2 linked regions of the Homo sapiens genome follow. The protein of the gene in region 2 interacts with the protein of the main gene of each other region in a biochemical or structural test. Each region holds a gene or a part of one and is shown on either strand. Other genes may lie near its edges.

Region 1 (3,014 bases), on a different chromosome or scaffold from region 2:
CTCTAACCACACAAGCCAGTCAGCGAGCACTGCATGCTCAGGGACCCCTCCTCTCCAAAACCCTACAAGGTTTGCCCTACACTACTGGGGGCACAGGAACCCTCCAGGCCCTCAGGGCACCTCTTCCACTCTGCAGGATGACTCTGACATTGGCTGAGGTGTCCACATGGTGGGAGGGGTCCAGGGTATGGCACAGCCTGGGTCAGTGTTGGGTGGGGTCTTGGGGGCAGCGGGAGGGGCAGGAGTCATCATCACCCCCAGACCTCCACACCAGGACTGCATGGACCTGGCAGGTTTCCCCTCTTTGCAGTTTCTTTCCTCTCGTGATGTTTATTTGTGATGTTCATTGCAAAATGACTCTACCTAAATGTGTGGAGGTATAGGGGTGGGGTTTGGAATATGGGACCTCAGAATGGAGGTGTCCCCGGCTGCCCTTCCAGATGGCACCAAGTCCAGCCACAGGTCAGCTACACACATAGCACACTGGGACAATGCTGGGCTCCATTCAGGGTATTTTATTTTCTTAAAGTAGACAACCTTTGACTTTCATCCAATCCCCAGCTTCTCTTTCCCCCGTACATCTCTTCACGTCCTTGGCTGTGATTCCGCACACTGACCTCGGACACACAGCTACTGCACGGAGAGAGGGAGGGAGATCTGGCAAGGGCTCCGGCAGTGCCTCTCCTCTCCATGGCGCAGTTCGTATTTACACACGGCCCTTGGCGAACGTCCTTTCAACGCAGTTGCCCATAGGCCCTGGGACAGGAAGGCCCAGATCAGGGTCCCAGCAGGGCCTCCCTCAGGCCACAACGCTGGCTGTGCCTTCACAGGAGTCAGAGCATTTCCAGCCAGTCTCAGGCGCGGGGCATGCTGGGACCAGGGGCACCACCCCTTGCTCCCCTTCCTTCACTCAGCAAAGCCACAAATAATTTACTCTTTAAATACCAAGACACTTAGCTATTGTTCATTTGCTCCCAGGTGAAAGAACCTTCTTTAAATATGTCGTGTTTATTTTCTTAAATAAAAACAAAGCAGAAAACCCCACCATTAACAAGAGGACACTGCAGAGGCTTATGTACAACACGTGTCCCGCGAGGCTGGCGCAGGACTGCCACTCACTCCAAAATTTCTTTGGAGCAGAGAGACAGATCGTCCAGATAACAACTTTTACACTCAGCAAGCCAGACACAAAAAAGACCACCTGAAAAAAAATATGTTTTGAAAATCTGCATTTAAAAAAGAATACTCAACTGCATTTGAAATTTTCTGGATTTTTTTCTGCGAAACACCACGAGATTTGGCCAAAAAAAAAAAAAAACCAAAAAACAAAACAAAAAAAAAATGTCAGAGAAGGAAAACCAGGTTTTGATTTATAAAACATCAGACTAGTAGAAGAAAAGCTGGAATCCCAGCTGGCCTAGTTTGAAATAAATCGTGCCACTCGTTTTGTTGTATTGGTTTTTGCTGCATATTTTGAAGCTGTTTTTTAAAAAGAGCTGTGAGTGGCTGGAGGTCTGGTTAGTGCTGTCACCCGGCTCCTAAGGTCCCAGGTCCAGAATGAAAGTGGTGCTGAGCAGCTGTGTGCAGGCCAGCAGGGAAGGTGCACAGACCCTGCACTGGTCCTCCCTCTTGGTCAGCGGCAAGGTCCCTAGGCCAGAGCTCGGGCAGCGAGCTGGCCCTCCTCCAGGCGACAGGGGTGCAGTTGGCCTACCTTGCCTCAGCCCTGCTGCCTATCCCTAACAATCCAATGCAGACCCCCAAGTGGAGTGGGGCCAACTCAGGAAGGCAAAGTGAAGGGGCAGGTTGGGCTTGTAGTGACCTTGTGACAGCTTCTCAAGTCTTCAAGAGACCTCGACATTTTAGAGGATTTTGCCATCTCCAGATGTGTGTGTGTGCATGTGTGTGTGTCTATCTACCTAGCAATCTATCCGTAAATATTTATGTTTGCAGAAATGTGGGGCCAAGGAGGCAGAGGCCAAGGGGTGGGGGACATTCTTTAGGCCCCCTGTTTTCTGCCCCTGGATTGGGCCTCTCTAGCACGCGTTGGGGCATGACACCCCGTGGGTTTCACCATAGGCAGGCGGGCCCCGGGCCCAGCTCCTCAGCAAAGGCCAATGTACTTGAGATTGTTCTGTATGATGACGTCTGTCACCGCGTCGAAGACAAACTGGATGTTACTGGTGTCGGTGGCGCAGGTGAAGTGGGAGTAGATCTCCTTGGTCTCCTTGTTGCGGTTCAGGTCTTCAAACTGCCGCTGGATGTAGACAGCGGCCTCCTCGTACGTGTTCTGGCCCTTGTACTCGGGAAAGCAGATGGTGAGCGGGATGCGGCGGATCTTCTCTGCCAGCAGGTCCTTCTTGTTCAGGAAGAGGATGAGTGAGGTGTTGATGAACCAGTTGTTGTTGCAGATGGAGTCAAAGAGGCGCAAGCTCTCTGCCATCCGACTCTGGGGAAAGGAAAGTACTGGCGTTAATCAGGCCCGCAGCAGGCAGAGACAGACCCTAGACCTGCAGCCCTGCCAGAGGAAGCCTTTGCTAGGGTCTCAGCCCAAGACTGGTCCCTGCAATGGCACCTCCTTCTGCTGGGGAAGCCCAGGTTAAATGTCTTCACCCACCTCCCACGGAAATAGCCGGCAGCACCCTCCTTGCCAGTGGCAAGTGCTTGGAAGATGTTCTCTTGCCCCTTTTGGGTCTCTCCTCTGGGTGCCAGTGATCTCAACATATAGCTTTGGGGCTACAGATGTGCCAAGCACAGCCTCCTAAACCGCTGGGCACCTCCAGCTCCGAGGACCCCCCATCTTCCCACTGCCCATCCACAGGCTGCCCCACACCTGTACAAGGAAGGCCATCTTCTGCAGGAGCCCCCGTCACATCATAGCTCCCTCAATGCAGGCGCTGGCAGCCTTGTGCCCTATCTGGGTTCTGGCCCAGTCCTTCAAAACTCTGATCCTTCCATGTGGTACCATCGGACACTAGGAAGTCTGTGAGGGAGCAGCCTTCACTTCTGTAACCAAA
Region 2 (9,275 bases):
TGCTGTGCGATCATCCTTCTCGCCACTGATATTCAGCCTGGATACCCCACTGTTGCTCTAACAGGGAGGAAAATATTTTCCTGCCACTGCCCTGAGCCTCCTGACTGACCCCAGCTACCTTGGACATCCCAGCTTTTGGGACTACCCCAGACCTCCCTATAACCAGCAATCAGAGGCCGGCACAGCAAGAGTGCTTTGAAATGCTGCCTGGTGCTCCAGGGTGACAGGCAGCACCTGCTGTCATTGGTTGGTGTCTGTGCAGTATTTGCTAGAGTTTTGTGGATCTCAGCCTTGAAACCTGTGTCTTTGTACAGTCAAAGGGTCTGAGTTGGGAGAAGGCACCTAGATATGCTCCACCATAGCGTTCTGGTGTTTCCTGTCATCCCTGAAGCCTCCGAGTTCTTATAACAGGGGCTTAAAGACTGTAGCATTGAGATATGAAGGCTCGTAGTTATTGTCCAGTTCAGAGGACATTAATTCCAGGTATCTGGAACTTAGAACAAATCCTCATGCCCTCACCATGGCAACAGGGCTCACCTCCTCTGTCTCATACCTCTCCCTCCCGTGGCCACTATTGCTACAGATATCCTGACCCTTTTACCTCTTTATCAAATAAGCTCACTCTGCCCCAGGGCCTTTACATGGGCTTACTTTCCTCCAAGATGACAACTCATCCTGAAGCAGCTTTTCCCTTCAATCCAGCTACTCCCTCTTTTGTTATTCTGTTTGATTTTATTTATAGCATTTAGCACTGTATGACATTGTTTATTTTGAAATTGTTTATTTCTCTCTCCTCAATAATATAAGCCCAAGAAAGATAAGGAATATGTTTTTAATTCTGTTTCTGTCCCCGGGCCCTAGAATAGGGTCTGGGAGATGGTTGCAGCAGAATCCCTAGCTGAAATGGCAATCTTGTGCTAATTAGAAAAAAAGAGCTCCCTTGCCCCCGTCTCTGTTTCTTTTTTTTTTTTTTTTAGATGGAATCTCCCTCTGTTACCGAGGCTGGAGTGCAGTGGTGTGATCTTGAAGAGAGCCCTTTCTTGATATACTTTATCATCTTCTGCTAGAAGTTTTTCTATACTCATTATAAAAACCCACCCTATCTGTCACTTACACACCATGTATTGTCTTGCTTCCACCCCATCAAAAATGCTTGTGGAATGAATGGATTGGTGAAAGTCAGGGGGACTGGAACATCTGAAAACAAATGTCAGTGTGTGGCCAGCGTCTGTGCACCTTTCTTGGTTGATTGAAACTTCTGTGCATTGATTTCATGGTGTTGGGCACAGAATCCCCTTTTTGCTCATTACCAACAAAGATTTGTCAAGCACCCACTCACTGTGTTCGCTTGGGGAATTCAGACATGAACAAGACACAATTTCTTGATTTAAGAGGCTGAGATTCTAGAGGGCCAGGCGGTGATGTGAAAGATGGTGTAGTCCAGGGTCATAACGGCTGCACTAGGAGCCAGCCCAGGGCTCTCCTGGAACACAGGACACCTGTTCAGTGCAGAGGACTCAGTAAGTCTTTCTGGAGAACTGATTGAGCTGGCTTTGCAGGATGGAGAGGTTCAAACATTGCTAAGTGCTTTGTACAACTTATAAAAATCCATGTTGCCCAGTCTCCAAGCAGTCTCATGTTCAGTAGACAAAAGGCAATTTTCAAACTGAAATGTTTTACTTGCATTTCTACTTCTATTTTCTTTCTTTCTTTCTTTCCTTCCTTCCTTCCTTCCTTCCTTCCTTCCTTCCTTCCTTCCTTCCTTCCTTCTTTCCTTCTCCCCGCCTCCCCCGAGTCTTGCTCTGTTGTCCAGCAGACTGGAGTGCAGTGGTGCGATCTCGGCTCACTGCAACCTCCAACTCCTGGGTTTGAGTAATTCTCCTGCCTCAGCCACCTCTCTCTCTTTCTGTAGCTGGGGTTACAGACACATCCCACCACGCCTGGCTAATTTTTGCATTTTTAGTAGAGACGGGGTTTCACCATGTTGGCCAGGCTCTTCTTGAACTCCTGACTTCAAGTGATCCACCTGCTTCAGCCTCCCAAAGTACTGGGATTACAGGTGTGGGCCACCGCACCCGGCCCTTTACTTGCATTTCTTAAGTTGTGTGAAGTCAGCAGGGATTGTTCTCTAGAATTCCCTTTTACTCTCCTATCCATATTCCCCCAGATCGTAGTTCCCTCACCTCTTTCACACAATCTTCCCTGCAAAACTCCACCCACAGCTTTCAATACCTCTCCCCACTTCTCTGCTCTTTATTGGGAAGACAAGCACAGTTTCTTCCTTTTGGGACCATTCCTCCCTCCTCCGGCTTTTCAGGTCTAATAATGTATCCATTCTCTATCACAAAAGCCAAGCTAGAATCCTCTTTGGAGCACCGCCCAGGTCAAGAAACTGCACAGATAGAGCAGAGGGAGAAAGGAGGTTCAGAACACTCATGCATTAATTGTTTTGGTCTCATCACAGTTTCTTTTTTTTTCTTTCTTTCTTTTCTTCTTTTTGTAATGGAGTCTCACTCTGTCACCCAGGCTGGAGTGCAGTGGTGCGATCTTGGCTCACTGCAACCTCTGCCTCCCGCACACCACCATGCCTAGGTAAGTTTTGTATTTTTAGTAGAGACGGGGTTTCACCATGTTGGTCAGGATGGTCTCGATCTCCTGACTTCATGATCTACTTGCCTCACCCTCCCACAGTGCTGGGATTACAGGCATGAGCCACCACACCTGGCTGGTCTCATCACACTTTCTAAACGACTATTATTAACTCACTTCCCAGATGAGAGAACTGAAGCTCAGAGAGATCAAGCGACCTGCCCAATATACCAAAGCTAGTAAGTGCCTATTCTTCCTGCCTGCCATACTTCCCTTCCCTCTGTCTTCCCCTTTGCCTACTTAACTGTGATTCAACCCAAAGAGAAATTTCCCCAGAAAGCCTTCCCTAAACATCTTGCCTTGGCCAACCTCCCCAACTGCTGTACACTTAGATAAGGCTGTGAACTTTCCCTTCACAGCCCTTGTCACATTTGTAATTGTGTATTTCTTTGGATTATTCCTGGGTTAAAGTCTATCTAGACTTTAAACTTTTTTTTTTTTTTTTGAGACGGAGTCTGGCTCTGTCACCCAGGCTGGAGTGTGGTGGTGTGATCTCGGCTCACTGCAAGCTCCGCCTCCTGGGTTCACGCCATTCTCCTGCCTCAGCCTCCCAAGTAGCTGGGACTACAGGCGCCCGCCACCATGCTCAGCTAATTTTTTGTATTTTTAGTAGAGAGGGAGTTTCACCATGTTAGCCAGGATGGTCTCAATCTCCTGACCTCACGATCCACCCACCTCGGCCTCCCAAAGTGCTGGGATTACAGGCGTGAGCCACCGTGCACAGCCTAGACTTCAAGCTTTTAGAATAGCATCTCTCTCTCTCTCTCTCTCTCTCTCTCTCCCTCCCATTGTATAACCAGTGGGTAAAACAACATATGGGACATGTCAGTACTTGTTAAATATTTGCTGAATAAAAGAATGAATGACTGGAATTCAAACCCATGTCTCCAAAATCCAAGCTCTTGTCTGACATCATGACTTGGTGTTCTCCAGGAGAAGAAGATAGGGGAAGGTCATTCCAGGTTGAGGAAATACCACATGACCGTTTACAATGGGTGTTCTTTTTTGGTGGCGGTGGTGGTGGCGGCAGCTTGAATCCAGGCTGTATTCGGAGTAGTGAAAGGAGAAGAAGCAGGAGCTGTGGACAAAGACAAGGGCAATATGAGGAAAAGACCTTGCATGCCTGGCCAGGAACAGGGGCCACAGGGAGCTGATCATGAAACACACTGACGGTGTTTCATCAGGGGAGTGACATGAACATAGTCACATTCAGGAAAGATCACTGCCTGCTGGGAAGACAGAGGGTCAGGGCAGAGACTGGAGGCCAGGAAAGTGCCACCATCAAACAGGATGGAGGAGGCACAATTCTGGACAGGGATGTCCATGGCCAGAGGAGTGGTCCAGCTCCCAGAAGATGAGGAGAGACCAGAGGTGAGGATGGCCCTTCAGTTTCAGGTTTAGGCACCTGGACAGATGGTCTTGCCCTCTCCAGCGGCAAAAAGCACTGAGGGGGAAGGAGGTTGGGGGAAGGGACTGTGTAGGCTGAGCAGCTTAAGTCTGAGAAGGTGGGCCACTTGCAGATGTTGGTCCAGGGTACAGGTGCGTTTGGTGGAGGGGGAGACTAGGAAGGGAGGAGAAAGTCCAGTCTGTTTCTAGACCTCACCATGCTGCAGGTGTCTGGGCCAGCAGGTCGCAGCCGGAGCTATGCAGCTGGCTGCTGTCACATCCCTTTCTCTCCCAGCTGCCTTCAGCTGAGCTTAACGCCAGTAGAGGCCGAAACACTTCACAAATGCAACTTGTCAGCTGGGAGGTGCACTCAGAGCTCAGGAACACTGTTTTCCCTCTTTATTGTTTTCCATCATTCTTTTTTTTCAGTTTGGGTTTTGGGCCCCGTCAGTTCCTTTTCTGTTAAACACTGAGCTATTTATCCATCCCTCTCAAGGTTGAAAAAGAGAAAGGCTGTAAAAGTGCCCTGCAAAGAAGAGGCCTCCAACTCTATGGGGGTGGGGGGCTCTCTTCCTCCTCTTGTCTTCTGAGTTCATTCCGAATTATTCCCCAAAGGAAAAATCGTTCAAGGACTGGGGGCGGTGGTGGGGAAAAGGACAATCTCCCAAGAGGTCAGCTGAAGCCCCAGCCTCAGGGTGTTGAGAGAGGGGCTGGGGGAAGCGGGAGCCTGTTCCTAGGAGACACTGTCTACTGGACACCTCATCCTAGACGGCTTCCATGAGTTCTGACACTGTCCCAGGAGTAGGAATCATTATCCCACGCTGTGGAGAAGGAAACCAAGGCCGGGTAAAGTTATGTAGGGCCCTTAAAGTCGCAGAGCCAGGAATAAAGTCCGGATTGGGACTCGGGTCTGTGGGTAATCCAAGGCTGCCCCGCTTACCCTTCAAATGCTCTTTCCCCCTCCGGAAGCCCTCGCGTCCTCATCCTTACCCCACCTCTTGTTCCCCAAGCGTGGCCAGGGCTAAGGCTCCAGGGATGCGCCAAGCACCCTTCGGTTTTCCCGGGGAGAATTTTCCCCGGCCCGGGGACTAGGGTCTGGCGCTGGGGCGCCCCTCGGACCTGCGGGATCGCCCCTACACTCTGGCGCGCTGAGGGCGGTGAGCGAGGGCGCCAAGGCACAGGTGGGGCGGGAGTCGAGCGCGGAGGCTCGGGGGGCGGGACGCGGGGCCTGGGAGCGGCCAGGGACCGCGGCAGCGCCTCAGTGCCAGCCTGGCGCCCGCGACTGCCTGCCCCAGCCCCTCAGTGGCGGCTTGCTCTCTTCTCTCGCTCCGAACCAGACACAGCCGCTGCCGCTGCCGTCCGGCGCGCTACAGACTCCCGAGAACAGCCCTGGCTGTCAGCGAGCACCAGCCGCTTCCTGTCCCCATCGCGGAGACTGGAGGGGCGCACCACGGCCATGGAGCCAGAGGCGCTTCAGGAGGCAAGAGAAGTCCCCGCGCGCTCCGCAGCCCGGCGCAGCTCATGGTGAGCGCCCTCTGGGGCTCGAGGGTCCCTTGGCTGAGGGGGCGCATCCTCGGGGTGCCCGATGGGGCTGCCTGGGGGTCGCAGGGCTGAAGTTGGGACCGCGCACAGACCGCCCCTGCAGTCCAGCCCGAAATGCTGCCGCCAGGCAGCAACGGCACCGCGTACCCGGGGCAGTTCGCTCTATACCAGCAGCTGGCGCAGGGGAACGCCGTGGGGGGCTCGGCGGGGGCACCGCCACTGGGGCCCTCACAGGTGGTCACCGCCTGCCTGCTGACCCTACTCATCATCTGGACCCTGCTGGGCAACGTGCTGGTGTGCGCAGCCATCGTGCGGAGCCGCCACCTGCGCGCCAACATGACCAACGTCTTCATCGTGTCTCTGGCCGTGTCAGACCTTTTCGTGGCGCTGCTGGTCATGCCCTGGAAGGCAGTCGCCGAGGTGGCCGGTTACTGGCCCTTTGGAGCGTTCTGCGACGTCTGGGTGGCCTTCGACATCATGTGCTCCACTGCCTCCATCCTGAACCTGTGCGTCATCAGCGTGGACCGCTACTGGGCCATCTCCAGGCCCTTCCGCTACAAGCGCAAGATGACTCAGCGCATGGCCTTGGTCATGGTCGGCCTGGCATGGACCTTGTCCATCCTCATCTCCTTCATTCCGGTCCAGCTCAACTGGCACAGGGACCAGGCGGCCTCTTGGGGCGGGCTGGACCTGCCAAACAACCTGGCCAACTGGACGCCCTGGGAGGAGGACTTTTGGGAGCCCGACGTGAATGCAGAGAACTGTGACTCCAGCCTGAATCGAACCTACGCCATCTCTTCCTCGCTCATCAGCTTCTACATCCCCGTTGCCATCATGATCGTGACCTACACGCGCATCTACCGCATCGCCCAGGTGCAGATCCGCAGGATTTCCTCCCTGGAGAGGGCCGCAGAGCACGCGCAGAGCTGCCGGAGCAGCGCAGCCTGCGCGCCCGACACCAGCCTGCGCGCTTCCATCAAGAAGGAGACCAAGGTTCTCAAGACCCTGTCGGTGATCATGGGGGTCTTCGTGTGTTGCTGGCTGCCCTTCTTCATCCTTAACTGCATGGTCCCTTTCTGCAGTGGACACCCCGAAGGCCCTCCGGCCGGCTTCCCCTGCGTCAGTGAGACCACCTTCGACGTCTTCGTCTGGTTCGGCTGGGCTAACTCCTCACTCAACCCCGTCATCTATGCCTTCAACGCCGACTTTCAGAAGGTGTTTGCCCAGCTGCTGGGGTGCAGCCACTTCTGCTCCCGCACGCCGGTGGAGACGGTGAACATCAGCAATGAGCTCATCTCCTACAACCAAGACATCGTCTTCCACAAGGAAATCGCAGCTGCCTACATCCACATGATGCCCAACGCCGTTACCCCCGGCAACCGGGAGGTGGACAACGACGAGGAGGAGGGTCCTTTCGATCGCATGTTCCAGATCTATCAGACGTCCCCAGATGGTGACCCTGTTGCTGAGTCTGTCTGGGAGCTGGACTGCGAGGGGGAGATTTCTTTAGACAAAATAACACCTTTCACCCCGAATGGATTCCATTAAACTGCATTAAGAAACCCCCTCATGGATCTGCATAACCGCACAGACATTGACAAGCACGCACACACACGCAAATACATGCCTTTCCAGTGCTGCTCCCTTTATCATGTGTTTCTGTGTAGTAGCTCGTGTGCTTAGAAACCTCACCCCATTGATTGGTAGTTCGAAGAATTGGCAGAAGCAGTTGCAATAAACTCAGTCAAATGTACCCAGCCTACCAGAGATGGACCAACGATCCTATGAGAGAAGAGAGTATGGTGCTGGGTCCTTAAAAAAAAAAATGATACTTGGTCCTTAAAAAATATGCTCTCCCCTCCCTTTTTAAACAAATGGCTTGTTCAGTCACTTGTTTGTGTTTGAATTGATTTTTAAACAGCAGGTTGTGTGTGTGTGCAGTGATGTGGTGGGAGCACAGCTTTCCTGGGTCTGGATTCCCGTGGCTTTGTGCTTATGTCATTTCTTCTCTCTGTGCTGGTGGGGGCCTCTTTACCATAGCTTAAGAAGTATCCCTGATTTATTCTGGTGTCTAATAAACACAGATTATTTGTATTATGGGGTGACTATCTTTGCTTTGCTACATTGGGTTTCAGGATTGCTTCTGAAGAAACGATGAGTGCATCCTTAAAATGCAAAGAAGATATTTGCTGGGTCTGGAAGTACATGCTTAATCTCTTTACAGTTTGGCCTTAAAGATACACCAGGGCAAAGGACCTTGAGGAGCTTCTGTTTTCTCAGGTTTCTTTTTATTACTTATACCCATGTTGGGTCTGTGCTGAAACCTGGCTTCAATGGCATGGCATTAGATCTTCTCAAGACCAGATGTTTTTTTTCTCATATGGAATCTTTTTTGAAGTAACATAAGACAACTCTCCTTATTCCTAGACAGATGCGATCAGTTCATTGAAAAGATCATGTAGAATAATATCTTGAATCTTTCTCCATCTGACAACTGTAGCATGTTTTAGAATGACATGGCTTTTGAGAAATCGTGTTTTCTGAAGAGCTTTGAAATGTGTGAATCAAGATGCTTTAAAAAAGAAACTCTATTTTTAAATAGGCATTTTCCTTAGTGGACAATAGCAAATAGGGAAATGCTTTTTAAGTAAAATGTAGAAGCCAGAGATGAAATGTGAATGAACTTGAAATTGGAAAATCTGTAGGTCGAGGTGCTCAATAGAAAAGCCCGGCTGACTCCAATCATTTTGTTTTTCCTCTCTGCAGTGTGCACAGCCAAGGGGAGTGTTTTATTCCAGACCCACACCAGTTGAGAGCATATTATTACCATCAGATCTAAATGTGAGCACTATTAATGGAAGCAAATGAAATGTGAATATGCAATTTCTTGCAAGTCCCTGCTTTGAAGCCGTTTTATCAAGGACAGTTCAATCAATTTTGATCTCTTTAAGGCTAATTTTATTGTCAGTCTTCTGTGCAGCCATATCTTGATCACTGCAAAATGTGCAGTTCCTGGCACATAGTGCTTAATAAATATTTGTTGAATGAATGACTATTTCTGGAACAGTGAGATTGAAAGCAAATCCTATTCAGTACATCAATTTTTATATATAATTTAGTCAAAATGATACTGGAATCTGAGGTCCGTGTTCAGTTTCTGACCTCCTGTGAATGGATAGCTAAGCGAACCATTAGGCAACATTAGGGGCAGTGAAAAGCACCCAGCTCTAGGATTCAGGAGATCGTCGCATGACCTTGAGTGAGTCAATTAACCTTTCTGGGCCTCATTTTCTGTCTGTGTCTGTAAATGGAAAGACTTCAACTAGATCACTGTTTACCCAATTGTGCTTTGTGATGCATATGTTAATGGATGGGGTCTCTGGTGAAATAAGTTCAGCAAACCCAGGTTCAACACCTGTTTTCTCGATAGGACTTCTTAGAGCTTCTCCTGTGCATGATGCATCCTCCAGTGGGAGAAGATTCTGTATCATTTCCCAATGCTGTTCACCTCGTGAACCTTGTTTGGTGGAATTCCTGTTACTGTTTCTCTGAAGTCCATAGTCACGACTTGAGAAACTCAAATCTAACTGATCTGGAAGTTTTTACAATATTCTGTTCTAAAGCAAGAGTTGCTATAAGCAAAATCTTTTGTGAAAAACACTGTTCTAGGCTCCAGTTTAAATGAGTTCTGTGTTATG

Evidence for each region. The genes of interacting proteins can lie anywhere in the genome.
Region 1: the proteins of DRD5 (region 2) and GNAZ form a complex in vitro, tested with the Homo sapiens proteins (one study listed by BioGRID).

What each region holds. Positions count from the first base shown.
Region 1 is NC_000022.11:23,122,519-23,125,532, reverse strand, and holds the end of GNAZ (guanine nucleotide-binding protein G(z) subunit alpha), read right to left. Parts: coding exon of another isoform or gene 2,883-3,014; exon of another isoform or gene 2,831-2,882; intron 2,447-2,830; coding exon 2,102-2,446; 3' UTR 501-2,101; downstream 1-500. UniProt on the Homo sapiens protein: Guanine nucleotide-binding proteins (G proteins) are involved as modulators or transducers in various transmembrane signaling systems.
Region 2 is NC_000004.12:9,776,339-9,785,613, forward strand, and holds DRD5 (D(1B) dopamine receptor), read left to right. Parts: upstream 1-5,295; 5' UTR 5,296-5,691; coding exon 5,692-7,125; 3' UTR 7,126-7,671; downstream 7,672-9,275. Other genes in the region: SLC2A9 (solute carrier family 2, facilitated glucose transporter member 9), read right to left, coding at 3,529-3,727. UniProt on the Homo sapiens protein: Dopamine receptor whose activity is mediated by G proteins which activate adenylyl cyclase.